2 separate regions of the Homo sapiens genome follow, and region 2 is linked to region 1. Evidence: fine-mapped expression QTL. Tissue or cell type: blood mononuclear cells. Region 1 holds a variant in brackets; the other region holds the start of a gene. All regions are shown on one strand. Distances are between the middles of the regions.

Region 1 (2,687 bases):
AAGGGTCTCTGAGCCTTCTAGCCCATCCCCTCCTACCCCCAGCCATCTGCACATCTCCCCACAGGCTGAAATGATATCAAACCAAACAAGGACAAGATGCTCCTGGATATGGCTTGGCTCTGACCCCACCCAAATCTCAACTTGAATTGTATCTCCCAGAATTCCCAAGTGTTGTGGGAGGGACCCGGGGGGGAGGTAATTGAATCATGGGGGCCTGTCTTTCCTGTGCTATTCTCATGATAGTGAATAAGTTTCACGAGGTCTGATGGGCTTATCAGGGGTTTCCACTTTTGCTTCTTCCTCATTCTCTCTTGCCACTGCCATGTAAGAAGTGCCTTTCACCCTTCACCATGATTCTGAGACATTCTCCAGCCATGTGGAACTGTAAGTCCAATTAAACCTCTTCCTTTTGTAAATTGCCCGGTCTCGGGTATGTCTTTATCAGCAGTGTGAAAATGCACTAATACATTCCTGTTCGTCTTCCCTCTCTTCTACCATTCCCCAATCCAGAAGTAGGTTTTGATAACTATGATCGTGCAAAGGTCATTAAAATCTCACCCAAGCAGGTCATGACTGTGAAGTAGCTGCTTCCAGAACCATATCACCCACCTCCAGCTCTCTTTCTGCTGCTCCCTCAGTGCTGAGCTGCTATCCTCTCTCTTCTGCCTTCTGGGTGGGCTCTTGCATTTCATAGCTACCTTCTTGGGTTGCCCTAACCTCAATACCCTTTTGCTCTAAAACAATCCCTCCCTGTCCCTAATTCTCAACAAAAACCATTCTTCATGGCAGCCTTCAGTTAGTAATTGAGAAGAAAGCAACTGAGAGAGAAATTGAAATAAACCGTATATGTTTTCTAATGAGCTTTGTGTATTTATACATATGTCTTATTTATATTTGTGTCTTAAAATACTAGTTACCTATTGTGGTAGATTCAATGCTGGGCCCCAGAAGATATGTCTATGTTTTAACCCTCAGAACTTGTGAATGTGACCTTGTTTAGAAAAGGGTCTTTGCAGATGTAATTAAGTTAAGGATCTTGAGATGAAATCATGCAGGATTATCCAGGTGAAGCCTCAATCTAATGACAAGTGATAAAAGGCAGAAGAGAAGAAAAACACAGAGGTGAAGGCCATGACAGAAGTTAAGATTGCAGTGATGTCACCACAAGCCAAGGAATGCCTGGAGCCCCCAGAAGCTGGAAGAGCAAGAAAAGATTTTTCCCCTAGATCCTTCAGAGGAACCTAGATCCTGTTATCACCTTGATTTTGGACTTCTGGCCTCCAGAACTCTGAGAACATAAAATTGTCTTGTTTTAAGCCACAAAGTAATTTGCTGTGCCAACCCCACCAAACTCATACACTTGTTAATCTAAACTAACAGTATTGCTGCCTCTTGGGCATATAACTTGT[G/A]ATTGACATGGCAAGAGGACAAAGCAGAATCTCATGGAATAAAAAGCCCTGGATTGAGAGTAAATGCCCTGTGTTGTTCAAACTTTGACTGTTTCTTACCAGTGCACAAGCTGGGATGAAAAACTCTGATCCTTAGATCAGAGTTTATAAAACTTGTTCTCATTTATAAAACTTGTTCTGTCTGCCTCACAGCATTGGTGTAAACATCAAAACAGAACAGTGGATGGGGATGGGCTTTAGCTTTATAAATTTCCATATACTTGAAAAGGAGTTACTAGCTTCAGAAAGACGGAGTTCAAATTCTATTATTATATCAGTTACTAGTTATGTGATTTTGAACCACAAATTTCTCATCTGGTAAAAATGGCATAATGATACTCATCATATCGGAACATTGTAAAGATTAAATGAAATTACGAGTAGTTTGCACCAGGCTTAGAACTTGATAGGCCATCAATAAATTATAGCTCTAATTGTAATGATCATCATAATTGCCATCCCCCATCCTTACCCACCCCACCCCCAAAATGACTAAGATCAGTTCTACTTTCAAGTTAATCTGAGGCTCTCCTAACGTTTTTACACAATCAGATGTGTTCTTTGGAAACACAACTTTTCCTATTGGAGAGAGCTCAAGAGAGCTGTCTTGGAGGAAGCTGCAAATTTCTAAGAAGACTTTGGCCTTTACCATAATAGCCACTGAGAGTAATGAGAGGTCTGTAAAAGCCGAAGAAGCCAGCAGTCTCAGCTGCCCCAATCCACGATAGTCAGAATGAGCCAGGACCACTGGGAGAAACACCTCCAAATTATAGCCAGTGGCTCTCAAACTGTGCCTTAGAATCTCACAGAAGGCAGGTGAAAAAGCTTATTTCCTTGGAAGCCATGGCAGAGATTCTGATTTAGTAATTCTGGGCAGGGAACTAAAAATATGCTCTTTACCAGCATTCCAGGTGATTCTGATGCCATTGTCTGCAGACCACACTCTGAGAAATGTTGCCATAAGGCAGCAAGGAAAATGTGTTTTCAGGGTTTATCTTTCTCCCCAGGGTATCAAGTCCCAGAGCTGTGATTTGGTGTGGAGGGAACCTCTCCTACAGGTTCCTAGAGCCTTTTTAGGATCTCTGAAATCTGTGGCTTAGATAGTACTTTGCTTGAAGGCCACTTAAAGGGACCTATGGGGAAGGGGTAAAGAGTGGCACCTTTTAGGAGATATACCTAATGCTAAATGACGAGTTAATGGGTGCAGCACACCAGCATGGCACATGTATACATATGTAA
Region 2 (2,687 bases), 120 kb after region 1:
TTCAGAGAGGCAGAAAGCAGGAGAGACAGAGTAATACCTTGCAAAAAGTAGCAGCAGTGAAGAAAGAAGTAATAATGAGCTCCTGTTTGCAGAGCCTCTCAGTGCTGGAGGAGAACAGAGTACCACTTCAAGCCCTCCTGAGTCTGGGACAAGTCTAATTTTGTTTCTGCTCACCCTAGACATATAGAGACAAACCTTTATTCTTAGTTGTTTTTCACTGCCAAATGCCCCAGAAAACAGGGCAGAACAGACTTTGTCTTCTTTCCAACCACCCATAGCCAAAGATGGCATAAAAGTGGAGGGTACCTCCTGCCTCCTTGCAAATGTAATATAACCCACACCAGCCAGTCTCTGCAAAGCTCAAGACACTAGCACTTTCCTACCACCATGAAGTCAGAAGGGACCTCAACCCCCCAAAGCCGCCCCAGCCTGAGCTTCACCTGTTGCACCTGCCCACTTACCATGGGTTCACACCAGAAGAGAAAGTAAAAGGTCAGGTTGGGCTCTCTCCACAGCAAGAGCCCAGAGAATACTAGGAAACTGACATTTTACAAAGCACCTCTTTAAAGCTCTCTCAGAGGTGCGTAACTTTTAACTCTACCTCCACTCCCAACCCCCCAGGCTTCCTTTGCAACTCTTTCCCACCATGGATGGCTTGTCGGGAGAGAGTTAAAGAAGGTGCACGACTAATTCCCCAAACCATCTCGCTTATCTACAGACAAAAAGAACAGCCTTACATGGAGACACGCAGAAACCACCCGCAATTTAGCTCAGACCTCACCTGTCTTATGCAACAGTACACACACACACACACACACACACACACACACCCGCAAGGCCAGAGTCCAATCCCCCTTTAATTCGGTAAACATAGTTTTGCGCCTTTCTTTTCCCTACGCAGAACCCGACTCTACTGGCAGCAGAGAAATAGATGTAACCCTAGTGCCAAATGCCTTGCAGAACACACAGATACACAGGAACCAAAATGCATCTCATAGCTCTCCTTGGTGCTGAAATCACGTTAGCCAGAAAATCAAAGGAGCGAGTGCTCTGGACTTACCCAGGCTGGGGGTGGGCGGCCGGGGAGCGAGAGGAGCTTCCTGGGAAGAAAATTCTTGCTTGCTCAGGCTGGAGCCAGCTGATGCGCTCACCTAGAGAGCCCTCCTCTTTCCCTTCTCTTCCCTTCCTCCTATTCTGGGAGGAAGAGACAAGGCTCCACGAAAGAAATGAAACCCAAGCTGTCAGGGCTACGGGTGGAAGGAGAATGAGGAGGCAACCAAAATAAGATCAAAAAGTCAGGTGGCTTCACTCCACTAGTGGTAATTCCTTGGGTCAGAGAGGACCCCCTTCTCTCACTCTCCCTGGGTCTGCCCGTCTCCTCTGGGTGTTGAGCCAACAGCCTTAGCACAGTCGGTTCCTGCCTCTGACGTGAAAGAGAGGAGGAAGCCTGGGACTGCTTTGCTGTCTCTCTCTCTCTCTCTCTCTCTCTCTCTCTCTCTCTCTCTCTCTCACGCGCTCTCTCTTTTCCCCTCTTGCTGAAATTTCAGCAGCATGATTTTTTTAAGCCTCCGTTTTTTCCATCCCCCTACAAGCAGCCCCCTAGTGGACAGAAAAGAAAAGCATCCTAAATCCTCTTGAACAGTCCAGATTCAGGCACAGAAATACTCCCCGCACCCAACTCTTGGAGCTGCCTCTGCATAGGCAGGGTCCTGAAGAAGATAGAGGCTTCCCTCTGACCAACCCAGATAAGAAGAGAAAGGGAGAGGATGGAAGCTTTTGCAGATCCTTTGCCCATGATTGAAGGAGAAATCCAGGGTGGAATGGGTTGGGATAGAATGTTTTGGAATAAGGTCAGTTGTGGGGTTCTCAAGTGGTTTGAGGTCCGGGCTCAGCAGAAGGAACCCTCCAAAAAGTCAGCGTCTGCAGCCAGGTGAAGTATGTGTATACGTAGCACAACCCAGGCATGGGAATGCCTAAAGAGGCAGAGGATACAGGGAGCTGGCCCTTCATCCAACTCCACAATATAGCTTTTTTGTAAAGCTAGTAAGAAAAATATCTGAAAAGATATGGCCTGAGATCATCTCAGAAGTAGAGACAGAAGTGACCTTGATGCACATTTATGGAGAACCTTGGCAGAGAAGGGGCATCAAGGGGTCACTGCTCATAGGCTCATAAGGGATATCTAACATTCTCTTTTAAATGTACAGCCACACAGCCTCCCGGAAAGAGTCCTAATACTTACATCTAAAAATCTGAGTCCTGGTTTCAGACTGCCACTTGCTTACTGGACATTTTGCTTCTCTATGGCTCAATTTTACTGTTTGTAAAATGTGGATAATGCTGCCCCCTCCCTACTGAATAGGAATGCTAAGGGACTGGAATGATATAGAAACATAGAACCTCAGGATTGGCAGGGAATTTAAAGGTAATCTTATACAAACACTCTTCTTATATTTGATTCACTCCTGGCAAATAACAATAGCTAACATTTATAGAGTGTTTATACCAGGTGCTAGGCACTGTTATAAGCCCTTACATGTATTAGCTCATTTAAGCCATACAATAACTCTATAATGCAGAGGCTATTATTGCTACTCTATAGACTGGGAACTGAGTAACAGAGGAATGAAATAACTTTCCAAAGATCACACAACTAGTGAGTGTCAGGGATGGTAATGGAACCTGAG

The links. PIP is the estimated chance that this variant, and not a neighbour inherited with it, causes the effect.
Region 2: it holds the start of TNR, and the variant in region 1 is fine-mapped to the expression of TNR in blood mononuclear cells (TOPMed, PIP above 0.99).

Annotation. Positions count from the first base shown.
Region 1 is chr1:175,625,782-175,628,468 of GRCh38, forward strand. All of the region lies in intron 1 of TNR (tenascin R), which reads right to left. Among named protein-coding and RNA genes, the nearest start is that of TNR, 120 kb to the right of the region's middle. The variant G/A (reference allele first, on the strand shown) is at 1,410.
Region 2 is chr1:175,742,166-175,744,852 of GRCh38, forward strand. It overlaps TNR (tenascin R), which reads right to left and starts at 1,430. Exons shown (of 23, transcript NM_003285.3): 1 at 1,061-1,430.